Regions from separate parts of the Homo sapiens genome. Here regions 1 and 3 are each linked to region 2. The links come from fine-mapping of genetic effects on gene expression. A gene starts in region 2. Each other region holds a variant in brackets. All regions are shown on one strand. Distances are from middle to middle. Region 1 has its middle 38 kb from the start of FENDRR. Region 2 holds the start of FENDRR (FOXF1 adjacent non-coding developmental regulatory RNA). Region 3 overlaps FENDRR (FOXF1 adjacent non-coding developmental regulatory RNA).

Region 1 (4,153 bases), 38 kb after region 2:
GGAGGCAGAGGTTGCAGTGAGCAGAGATGGCGCCACTGCACTCCAGCCAGTAGCCTCTCCCTTTGAATCACAGGTCACATATTTTAAGGCCTGGTGTATTTTATAGATGCAAAGCAGGGGTCCCCACCACCCTGAAGAGTCCAGAGCTTCTCCAAACACACTGAACTTCTTCCCACCTCCAGCCCTGAAATGCCTCCCTACCCGTCTTCCCTTGGCCAACACACCTGACAGGGCACAGCCAAGACACAGACCCCTCGGGACGCCTCTCCAATCCCCTGAGACCAGGCCAGTGGGCTTTCTGTGCTGCCAACAGCCCTGCACCAGGATGTGGCACCATGACCTGCTGTGTAGGTTTCAATTATCCTCAGCTGGAAAACCCTAAGTCACAGTAGCTTAAAGAAGGTAGATTTTGTGTTTTTCTCTTTCACACTAAAGTCTAGAGGAAGGCAGGCCAGGGTGGAGAGATGCGTTTCCCTCCAGCCGTCCAGAGAAGTGGCTTCTTTGTCTGTTGCTCTACCATGTGGGTCCTCTGTCCCCAGGCACCTTCTCAAGACTGGCCACTTCAGCTTCAGCCCTCCCATCTGCATTCCAGCCAGCAGGAGAGAGGACCACTGAGAGGAAAGGACCCAGGGGCTTGGGCCCACTGTGTTTCTTTTGTTTGTTTTTGAAGGAAGGGCCCCCCACACCCTGCATAGTTTTGTTAACCAGGGTGCAATCACATGGCCACAGCTAGCTGCAAGGGAGGCAGGAAGTGCAGTTTCATGCCTGGGTGGCCACACCCCCGACTAAACACGGGGCTTTATTAATGTGGAGGTGACAGCAGACAAGACGGAAAGCCACGGTCCTGGCCACACCATTCATGCACTCCTAGGGTGCAGCTCAGTGCCAGAATTGTCAGAGGTACTCGGTAAACGAGTGATGCTCGAATGAGTGAATGAATGAATGAACTGCCAGGTGGAGCCACTCAGACGTGGGGCTTCTTTCTGGACGGGGTCTCGCGGGACTGTGGGCCTTTGCGAAGCAGCCCCAGGGGGCCATGTTCTGACTGGAGTGCGTGAGGAGGGCTTTGGCCGCTTTAACAGAAGCCTGGGGGGTCAGAGGCATGAGGAGGCCTCCAGGGAGGGATGATTCATCCCCCAGTCTTTGCCTCTCCCATCCTGAGCATCCAGTCACCCTCTGACTTCTGCAGTCCTGGCTCTGCCCAGAGTGTCAGCAGGTAAGCCCACCCTGTGGTCTGCATTTCATTGATCCTGTGTCACGGGGGCCCCGCTTTGCAGACAGCTATGCATTTCATTGATCCTGTGTCACGGGGGCCCCGCTTTGCAGACAGCTATGCAGTAGGATCATCTTTTACGACCCAATTAGCAGCAGAGCCCCCAGACGATGGGGAGACTTGAGGCCGTTACAGTGGAGGTCAAGCGGCTTGGTATCTGGAAAGAAGGAAAGAAAGAGACAAGGGGAGAAGGGAGGGGAGGGTGACTCGATGCCCTTGCAGGGCGAGAGGAGGGATGCTCCTGAACTTGGCCAGACCAAGAATGGAAGAGGCAGGAAAGTTGGGAGCCACCCACACACTTCCTCCATATGCCATTGCAGCTCTGGCTCCTTAAGCTCTCCTTGGGGCCTCAACATGCTAAGGACTCACATTCCTCTTCCCCTGACAAGAAAATGGGAAGGGGTCTTTGTCTACATCCTCCATCCCCAGCAAGGGCAGCAGGGAAGGAAGTCTCCTGAGAGCTGAAAGGGACTTTGAAGCTCCCATGCCCAACCTTCTCTTTTGACAGAAGGGGAAACTGAGGCACACAGTGAGGTCCCAGGAGAGGTGGGGTTAGATGCACGACCTCTTAACTTCCTAGTCACTGATGGAAATTATTCGGTCCCCCTAGAAGGGCCTGTTTTGAAGGACTTGTCATCTTGCCTCCGTGACGTTTGGACCATGAACAGCATGCAGTACTGGATGTCAGGAATCCACCCCATCGGGAGCTCCATGTACTTTGCTTTATTGTTTCCTCCACCCTGTTTATATCATCACAGGGAATCCTGCGAGGAACCAATCATTCCTCCTTGGGATGAGGAAACGGAAGTACCAATTAGTTGATAAGTAACTTCTCGGAAAAA[T/AT]ACCTCCCAACCCTGGGATATCTCACCCTGGCCCACTCTGGAGGCTGGTCTGGCTCCCTAGAGGCACTGGCCACCTACAACATGGTGTTTTTCGTGGCTTTTGCACCCCAGGCAGCTCTTCTTCAGCTGACTACAAGCATTAAGGTCACCAGGAAGGCATCGCCAAGAAAATAAGCTCCTCTGAGTCTCAAAGAACTGAGTGACCTGCCTCCCCCAAAATCATACAGAGAGAGCTGGACTGAGGGAAGTTAGTCAGCCTGGGGTGACACTGTGACTGCAGATACTCCAAACTTCATGTTTTTTTTTTTTTTTTTTTTTTTTTTGAGACCGAGTCTCGCTCTTGTCACCCAGGCTGGATTGCAGTGGCACAGTCTTGGCTCACTGCAACCTCTGCCTCCCAGGCTCAAGCGATTCTCCTGCCTCAGCCTCCGGAATAGCTGGGATTACAGGTGCCCACCATCACACCTCGCCAATTTTTGTATTTTTAGTAGAGACGAGGTTTCACCATCTTGGGCAGGCTCGTCTCAAACTCCTAACCTCACGTGATCCGCCCGCCTCATCCTCCCAAAATGCTGGGATTACAGGCGCGAGCCACCACGCCTGGCCTGATCTTCATATTTAAAATGAAGTGCAGGATTACATGCTGACCACCTTCCTGTGTCCCAAAACCATTATTTTAAAAATTCTAAGTCAAATGCAAAACCTGCTCCAGACCTACAGGTCCAATGTAGCCTCTTCCATCAGTAGCTGATCTGAGACCCCCAGCCCAACACCCCCCATGCTGTTCTCCCCACCGGGGCTGGGGTAGGTCTCCCAGCAAGTCTCCTGGTTTAGGGGGACAGGCTTGTGAACTTGGTCTCTTGCTAATTATCCCTCCCGGTGACTCGGCCTGATAACTGTTACATTTGGAAATAAATGACAAACTTTTCCTACATCTGCTCCAAATTTGCATTTCAGAAATGAGAGCCCCAAGTTATGTGGTATTATATGGCAATCTGGGCCGGGCCTCGGAGTATGCAACTGATTGGATATTTTGCCTAAATCAGAGGAGTTTCAACCTCTTTCCAGGAAATTGAGTGGAACACCAAAACTGACATCCAGTATTAAATATTATATTGGTAGAGCTGTTATGTAGAGTTCTCTGGCATCCAACATCTGGGAGCAAAATTTATAAATGGGGAAACTGAATACCTGGTTGGAATGATGCTCATCAGAGCTGAGAAATTAAAATATTACCGTATACACTCCGAGTCAGGCCGCTTGTAAAGGTAGAGCTATTAAAATATGATTAGCTGAGCTGTATTTTGTCTCAGAAATGTCATACACCTTTAAAGTTGAGAAGACTTTGATGCAAATACCCTGGCAAAGGCTCTGCCCAGTCAGCAGCCATGGCGTCGAGAATGTTCTCTGCAAATATACAGTCTCACCAAGTGAGAAGAGAGCCCGCGGGAACCGCCTTGAGCGGCAGGACTCCTGTGGCTGCTGGGATACCCAGCACCTGTGATTTAGTCCGGCCGGGCTTACCAGCGTCTCACTGTGGGACATTTCAGGCCAGAGCAGGTTCACTGAATTGTGGGACCAGGGAGGACTTGCTGCAAAATTTAACTGTGCACCAAAAATCTTGAGAAATGATACTTTAGAATAATATTTTAAAAAACCAAACCGGCAAACTGCTGCTTGCTGCCACTGGCTAGCCTGTTATGAGGAAGAAAGTTTTATTGAAACCAGGGCCAGGATTAGAGGATGGCCAGCAAGGCAGGGTTCTACAAGGCCAGGGTCAGATTCTGTCTTTATTTACAATTTTAATATTTTTAAATATTTTGTTCATTAGCGTTCTCTGGTATTAACGTTATCTTTAAAAAGTGTCACATTCAAGACCAGCCTGGCCAACATGTCGAAACCCCTTCTCTACTAAAACAGGCATGGTGGTGCACGCATTTACAGGCAGCTACTCTCAGCTACTCAGGAGGCTGAGGCAGGAGAATCAGTTGAACCTCGAAGACAGGGGTTGTGGTGAGCCAAGATCATGCCACCGCAC
Region 2 (4,171 bases):
ACGAGTGGCCGCCGTTGGAAGGCAGGTGGGGCACCGAGTGGCTGGGCAGGGCCATGCCGTCCACGTTGCCCGGCAAGTGGCCGTTCATCATGCCCAGGCCGCCCTCCAGCGCCAGGCTGTTGGGCGGGCACGAGAGGCCGCCGGCCGAGCCCTGGAAGCCGTAGGTGTCCGGGAGGTGGTTGAAGCCGAGCCCGTTCATCATGCTGTACATGGGCTTGAGCGCCTGGCATTTCCTTCGGAAGCCGCGCGGCCGCCGCCGAAAGGAGCCCTCCTCGAACATGAACTCGCTGGCCGGGTCGATGGTCCAGTAGTGGCCCTTGCCGGGCCGCCCAAGGCCCTTGGGTAGCTTGATGAAGCACTCGTTGAGCGAGAGGTTGTGGCGCACGGAGTTCTTCCAGCCCTGGTAGGAGCCCCGGAAGAAGGGGAAGCGGCTCTGCAGGAACTGGTAGATCTCGCTCAGCGTCAGGCGCTTGGTGGGTGAACTCTGGATGGCCATGACGATGAGCGCGATGTAGGAATAGGGCGGCTTCTCCGGGCGCCGGATGCCGGCGTTGGTCTTCTTGGCCTTGGACGGGCCGGACGACGCGGGGTCCATGGCCGCGCCGCCTCCCCCGCCGCCGCCGCCGCCGCCGCCGTGCGGTGGCTGCTGCTTCTCGGGCGCCGAAGACATCGGGTGGCTGCTGCCGCCGCCGCCGCTGCCGCCGCTGCTCTGCGCCGCGGACGGGCCGGGAGGAGGAGGAGGAGGAGGAGGAAGAGGACGACGGGGGGGAGGAGGGCGAAGGGGAGGGGGCTGCGCGCGCGGGGCTGGCTGCACCTCTGCCGTCATCGGCGGCCACTTCTCCCGAGCGAGCCGCGGCGCGCCCGCCCCCGCGCTCCCGCCCGCCCTCCCCGAGGAGCTGCTGGATCCGCCGGCGGTTGGCTCAGAGCCCCTCTCTCTCCAACTCCCGCCTCCCCCACCTCTCTCCTCCCTCTTTCTTTCTCGCCCTCCCACAAGGAAAGGAGCCGAGCTGAGGCCGAGGGCAGCCCGGGCGAAGGCCGTGAGGAAGCTACCCCCGCCGGTATTTTTTGGGGGGAGGCACCACCTCCAGGTCTTACGGCCGTGCGCCCCAGCCGGGAGCAGCCCTGAGTCCCCGCCGCCCGCGGCGCTCGGCTCCGAGATTCCGGGCGAGGCAGCCTTCACTCCATCTCCGCTCGGCTGCGTCTCGCGGGTCGGCCTAAGACCCTCCCGGAGTTCCCTCCCTCCGTCCCTGCCCCCCTCGGGCCCCCGCGTTGGTGGGCGCTTAAAGAGCCCCCACTCTCGCCGCCCCGCGGCCGCCAGCAGAATCCGCCCCGCCTCCACCAACCTGGCGAGCAAGTGTTAATGCGCCCTCCGCCCGCGGTTCAGCCCCGGTGCGCGCTGGACCCCGCCTTCCCCGCCCGGGCGGCGCGGCGGGAAACGCTCCCTGGGCCGGGGCCTTCCCCGACGCGCACAGCCCTGTAGCAAATCGCAAGTGCGGCGGCCTCCCGGTCGTGACCATCGCAGGCACAGCCGGCTCGACTCCGGTCCTCGCGGCCGGCCGGCTAAGTTCCCGCGAGGGACCGCCTACCCACTCTCCCCGCCCCGGGAAGAACTGCGCCGCTCCCGGGATTTTTCGGACTCGCCCAGCAGCTTGCGAGCGGGCGGGCAGCCGCCGGGGCAGAGCGCAGGCGGAAAACGAAAGCGCAGCACGAGTCGCGGCCGCTTTGTCTCGGGCGCCGCGGGCCTGACGGGGGCGAGTGAGAACCCGCTGGCCCAGAGGCGACCCAGACCGCACAGGCCCCTGAATAAGCGGCGTGCTCAGTCACTCACCCGTGCGCGCACACCCTCGCGCTCTTGTCCACACATTAGCACACACATACATGTCTTGATGCACATGCAAACCCGGTAAATTACGCAAACAGACGTGTAAACACACCCATGCGTGTGTGCACACTCATATGCAGAGGGCGCTCAGGCATGTGCGCACCCACTAATGCACTCGTTGACACGGAAGCTTAAGGCCCACAGGAGCTTAAGTTCGCACTCACTCCCACTCACGCGTACACACGCCACGCTCGGATCTGAACTCACACGTAGTTCAGTTGCCCTCCCCCACCCCCAACACACACTGAAAACCCGCCTATTTGGCCCCGCGGCCCCGTTTTCAAAGCGCAGGTTCCGATTTCCCGAGAGATGGCAAAGGCCCTGGCAGGAAGTTTACAGGGTTTAACGTAAACAAGTTCTGGGGGATTCTTTAATAATAATAATAGAGAATTCCGCGTGCGCAGGGCGGGAGGGGGGAGTTGGCCTAATGCCCCTGTGGGCTCGGCCTGCCGCCGCCGCGGGGCCTCTGACACTGCGCGCCAGGCCAGGTTCCTGAGAGCAGACAGCGCGGGCTGGGAGCGCCGGCAAGGGCGGCCCTCGCGCACCTGGCTGCCAGCCCGCAGGGGGCTCGCACGCAGACCTGCCCTTGCCACCTCAGCGCTCGGGTGCGGGCTGGGGGCGGTGGAGCCACGAAAGGTGGTGCCGAGAGCGGAGCGCAGGACAGCGCAGGAGCCCCGGCGCATCGCGGCGCGCACAGACCCAGGTGAGTGCTGCTCTCGCAGCGACTGCTGGCCGGGCGCGGCCTCTCCCTCCAGGGTTCCGAGTTGAGAAGAGGGGGGCGAGGGGTGTTTTCGCGGGTCATCGCGAAGAGCCTAGAGGCCAAGCCCCAGCGCGAGCTGGGGCGAGAGGCGTGTGCCGGGCTCGCAGCACGGCCCGCGGCGCGGCGCGTTCAAAGCCTACCCGCCTCTCGGTTTTCTCCGGACTCCTTGTCTCCCGCTAACTACCCGCCCCCACCTTCCTGGCTCGGACGCCTTCATTTTCGGCGGGAGACGCCTGTCGCCTTCGGGGCGCCTGGCACGTCGGTGAGAGGAGCTGGGGGGCTCGCCGGCGCAGCCTGCCGGGCAGTCGCCGCCTCCTCCGCCAGATCTGCGCTCGCGGGAGAAGAGAGCCGCCTTCCCGCGCTGCCCTTCCGCTGGCCTCTCTGGGTCTCCGCGTGCAGACAGCCTGGCCCGCCTAGGGAAAGAATGAGTGTGGGACGTGACCCGTAGTGTGTGGTTGTGCATTCACGCAGGTAAACGCTCTCTGGCAGACCCGCTACCACTTCACACAACCAGCTCAGCCTCCGCGCACACAGACACGCTCCGCACCGCCCACGGCCTCAAACACCCTTCCCAGCGACCCTCACACAGCTCAGGCGCTCCCAACCCTTGGACCAACACACAGGCCTGCCCAACGGGGAGGGCACACTTTGGTTTAAGTGCACACTTCATGCACGCCCACATGTTCTCCACTGCGCGTTCGCCCACGCATAGCCAGGCGCCACGCGCAAATAATCATAGGTACCGCCGCTCCATACGTGCGCACGCGTCCACGAACACAAGCATTCTCACATTCTCTCCCAACTTTTGTGTGTGTGTGTGTGGCAAATGGCAGTTGCAGATGAGGAGACCCTGGCCTCCGGAGGAAAGTTCTGTTCCCAGGAAGGGGTCGCTACTGCCGACTGCCAGAGCACATCTGGCCCTTAGCAGAGGTGAGCAGAGAAGGCTGCACAGCTCTTAAGCCAGCTAGGGGTGCAGGGCGCACGCTGCGGCTCGCTGAAAGTGGAAATAGCATCTCCCTTCCCCTCGCCCCTCCCCCACTCATGGGGCGCCTTCAAAGTGAGCGGGTCCCTAGAGCATGAAGTTGGGGAGCCCTTTCCCAGCAGACTCCTTCACTCCTGGGCCCTCTTCAGTTGGGGAAGGGAAGCCGCAGGTCCCATCGTTGGCTAACCCGGAGATCCATTTTTCCCTCCTTTCCACCCTTCTTTCTGCCCTTTCACCGGCTCTGATAGCAAACCAGACCTTACAGAACAGCCAGTCACGGAGCCCAGCGAAAGAGCCGGCCCAGTAGGCCTGGGAGTCTCAGGAAGGCCAAAGATGGAGGCTCTCCCCAACTGCTCATCTCTACTGCTGGGTGTGTGTAGAAGTGGGGGCGTGAGAGAGGAGGCGAATGAGCTCCCAGCTCTGTAATTTGGAGGGGACCCCCTGAATTCTGGGGAAAACCACAGCCGTAGCAAGAAGGGCTTTCCTTCATGCTCAGAGACTTCATTCTCAGCTCTTACAATGTCCCTGAGAGGTCTCCCTTGATCCT
Region 3 (4,171 bases), 31 kb after region 2:
TTTGCTGGGAAGAGAAGTGGTTGGCTACTTACTGCAAACAGATGATACAAAAATTCACATATCCCTTCCGGAATAAGGGCTGTGGAGGGATAGATGGGCTTGTGGTGGGAATGATTTTCAGAAAGATTTGCAAGAGATTGATGGCGCTGGTTGTATCTGGGTAGCTGGGTAGTATGCAGAAGGGACAGGAGGGGAAGAAACTTACACTCTATCCCTGTGGACTTAGGCATATTGGACTATGTGAACAAATATCTAATTCAAAAATATCCTCACCTTGCAAAAGGCTAAATATATACTCCCATCTCAGAGAGGGAGGGAGGGTGGGGATGGGAAGTCCTGCTGGCTGCCCCCGGAGGCTGGGCAGGGTGTGTGTGTGTGTGTGTGTGTGCGCGCCTGGATGTGTGTGAGAGAGAAGATCTAAAATGTAATGGTTTCAGCAGAATACGGCCCCGCTGTGTAATTAAACCAAGGGGGCTGTCGGCTCCCAGAGTTTAAGCAATTTCATGTGCATTTGGTGATTATGCCTCTCTCCTTGGATAAAAGTGCTGCTTCTATTTTCACCACACAAAATCATTCCCAGACCAGGATGAAGGATCACCTTCCCTGCCCACCTCAGCATGAGGCTCCCTCCAGCTGGCAATCCCAGAAGGGTGGGCTTCTAGTGGGTGCTGGGAGGGGAGTTCAAAACTCCAGGAACCTCTGCCACTGCCTCGGCAAGAGACAGCATGGCAGCTCCGGGTTCTCTGGACTGATGGGGCCACTGTGTTCTGCGTCATCCAAGGACACACAGGCTCAGCTGAGCCAGTCTTTTATTGCTGGAGGCGTGAGTGTCCGTGCTCTTTGATCCACCGCTCCTCTGCGGTTTCTTCTGTGACCCATGGGTTATTTGGAAGAGTGTTCCTTAATTTCCAAGTCTCTCGGGATTTTTTCCAGATATTTTCTTGTTGATTTCTAACTTAATTCCATTGTGGTCGGGGAACATATTCTGGACATTTAGTCTTTTGCAATGTATTACAACTGTTTTATGTTCCAGCATATGGTCTGTCTTGACGAATGTTTCACATACAGTCACAAAGAGTGAGTTTTCTACACTTGCTGAGTGAGTATTCTATATGTTCTATTAGGTCAAGTGGTCGCTAGTGTTGTTCCAATCTTTTATATTTTTACTGATTTCTTTTGCCTACTTCGATCAACTACTGAGAGGATTTTAACATCTCCAATTATGATGGTTGATTTCTTGGTTTCTCCTTTTTTACTATAAAATTTTGCTTTATGATATTTTCAAGCTCTGTTATTAAGTATATACACATTTAACTATTCACATGGGTTAATATACATACACATGTATATTTATTAATTATAACATTAACAAATATTAATGTTTTATTAATTAATGTGCAATTTTAATGTATTAATTATAACATTATAATAATATATAATTATACAAGTATATAATATAAATAGAAATATATAATACTATATTGATTATGACATTAATAAATATTAATGTTTTATTAATATTAATTAATAATGTATATGTGGATGAAATTATGTATACAGCATATATATACAATATACAATATATGTACATACAGTACACAGACACACATGTAGAGAGAGCTTGCTCCCATCTCTGTGCCCCATTTGCTCAGTTTCTAGCATCTCCTCCTCTCTGCACCCTTCCTGGATAACCAGTTTTATTCTTCTAGGATTACTTCATGCACATAAAAGAAAACGCAACTACAGTGGACCCTGAACAACGTAGGTATGAACTGGTTCAACACGGGTTTGAGTCCACGTATCCATTTATATGTGAATTTTTTTCAACCAAACAAGGATGGAAATACGATGTT[C/T]GTGGATGTGAAACCTGCACACACAGAGGGCTGACTGTTGGTATCGTGGGTTCCACAGGGCTGGCTGCAGGACTAGAATATGCACAGATTTGATATATTGAGGGGTCCTGGAACCAAGTCTGCGAGTATAGCAAGGAAAGAGTGTGTATATCTTATTCCTCCTACACAAAAGTTAGTGCGTCATACACACCATTTTGCAGTTTGGCTCTCCCCCTAACAATATACCTTGGTGCTCCTTCCCTGTCAGCCCCCACAGAGCTTCCTCCATCTTGGTGGCAGCTGTGTGATATTTAGTCTACTACCATTTATTTAACCAAGCTCCATTGATGGACATTTGGCTGGTCACACACCCTGGCTGTTACATCCTGTGGCCTCTCTCTGTCCCATCTTCTAGATCGCCTCCACCCTGCTTCCCTTGTCCTCACACCACACTCCAGCCCAGGAACCAGCCAAGTAAAGGGAGTACCCTTTCTCTTTTAGAAGGTGGGGCAAGAGGATGGTGGTGAACATTTTCCTTCTTTCACACACACATGCCTTGGCATTGCGTTTGCCTGCATGCAGCTATGGCCTGCAGCCACTGAAGAATGCTTGCATAAGGAGCTCTTCTCTGCACATACCCCGACACAGTGATGGTATCTTGCAGCTGCTGCTTCTGTCCAAGGCACTGCAGCCTACTCGTCAAAAGCCCGAAGCCCAGCTCTGCCAGCAGTGCACTGTGTGCTCTTAGGTAATCGCCTGGCTTCAGGACAATGGGACAGTAACAGCTAACACTGGGACGGAGGTGCTTATCATGTACCCAGAACTACTCTTAAGAGCATTGCATATTTAGCCTTATTTGCTTAAAACAACATTTTGAGGTCAGTCACATACTTTCTCCACTGTGTCTTTCTGAGTCACAGAGAGGTTAAGTAACTTGTGCAAGGTCACACTGCTCAGCAGAACTAAGACTCAATCTTAGCAATCCAGATCTAGGTTATTATGAGGGTTAAAGGTATCAGTGAGCAGAACGCACTTGGACCCAGTACACAGCAGGTGCTCATTGAAGCTTAGCTCTTGTCATCATGACTTGCCTAAGGAATTGGGATATGGCTGGTCTTGCTTAGGTGGGGAGGAAGGAGAACTGAAAAATACAACCCACACTTAGAAAAGTCTAAGATTCCAATTTACTCTGCCAAATTTTTGAAAGCTCTGGATTCATGGAAGAGGAGGAGGGAGAGCAGCTAAGAGCAGCTCCTGCTGGGATCAGGTGGGAAGTGCTGGGTGGGGTGAGTGAGCCCGGGTCACTCTGTTATTACAAGCCCCGCCCGAGAAGCCTGGCTTCCCGTCTGACCTCCGATCGTGCTAGCACAGGGCTCCGTCAACGTGAAATGTGCAAATGATTTGGCGTCCCCCCTCCCTTGCTTTTCTTTGCAGGAAACAGAGAAGCAAAGAAGTTAGCAAGCTTGTTTTGGCAGAAGAAAAAACACAAAATACCCAACCACAGATCCTCAAAAATATTGCTAAGCACTAATTTTGCTAACATGTTAGACAGCCTTCGGATCTAGGCAATCTTGTTCCTCAGCTGGAAAGAGTTCCTGCCAGCCATGTGATTCCAAATCCACCCTGGACATATGGGGATAATGAGAAAATCAGCTCCGGCCTTCCCTGGCCTTCCAGCCAAGTGAATGGGGGCATCCCCTGGTGCTTCAGCCCGGGGCCCACCCAGAGGATGCTAGCTGGCCTGCAGAGGCCTCAACCATGCCCTCCTGGACTCAGGTAAGACTGAGGTTTCCATGCCCTCAAAACAATTGTTCAGACAAAAACTCACTGCCCAGGTCAAAGTCACAGCACCAGAAAGCCAACCTGAGGATGAAGACAAAGCTCTTTGTTGGCACAGTCCCCTGATCATTCGAGGTCAGCATCTCCATCAAAATGGACCCAATGCTGAGGCAAGAAGGAGAACATCACTGTTAAGAAGGTAATGAGTCACAAATGCTATTTCGATGGTTTTCTTTGAAAGAAATACACAGAACCAAACCAATTTTAATTAAAGATCTTGTCTTTGTAATCAGGCAGCCACAAATGAAGGCAAAACTGCTTTCATGTGGCATAATATACACAGAGCTGAACTAGTTTTCCCATAAAAGGGCAGGTTCTTTTCTTCAAATAAGAAAAGAGTTTGTTCCTAACAATATGGGGGATGCAACAGAAAGCTGTCTTTTGCAAAGTATAAAATTGCAGATCCTCCCGTGGAAGCCATTTCTTGATGCTAAACCAATGCGAACGTTTGCCAAACGCACATGCGAGCCGGGATTATCCTACCCTTTGAGATTAGACAT

Evidence for each region. PIP is the estimated chance that this variant, and not a neighbour inherited with it, causes the effect.
Region 1: its variant is fine-mapped to the expression of FENDRR in transverse colon (GTEx, PIP above 0.99).
Region 3: its variant is fine-mapped to the expression of FENDRR in lung (TOPMed, PIP above 0.99).

Annotation. Positions count from the first base shown.
Region 1 is chr16:86,469,044-86,473,196 of GRCh38, reverse strand. No RefSeq gene overlaps it. Among named protein-coding and RNA genes, the nearest start is that of FENDRR, 38 kb to the left of the region's middle. The variant T/AT (reference allele first, on the strand shown) is at 2,116.
Region 2 is chr16:86,507,069-86,511,239 of GRCh38, reverse strand. It overlaps FENDRR (FOXF1 adjacent non-coding developmental regulatory RNA), which reads left to right and starts at 2,380. Exons shown (of 4, transcript NR_033925.1): 1 at 2,380-2,585. FOXF1 (forkhead box F1) reads right to left here and starts at 713. Exons shown (of 2, transcript NM_001451.3): 1 at 1-713. The coding sequence starts at 670.
Region 3 is chr16:86,476,295-86,480,465 of GRCh38, reverse strand. FENDRR (FOXF1 adjacent non-coding developmental regulatory RNA) reads left to right here. Exons shown (of 4, transcript NR_033925.1): 2 at 1,710-1,761; 3 at 2,415-2,580; 4 at 3,267-4,171. Among named protein-coding and RNA genes, the nearest start is that of FENDRR, 30 kb to the left of the region's middle. The variant C/T (reference allele first, on the strand shown) is at 1,854.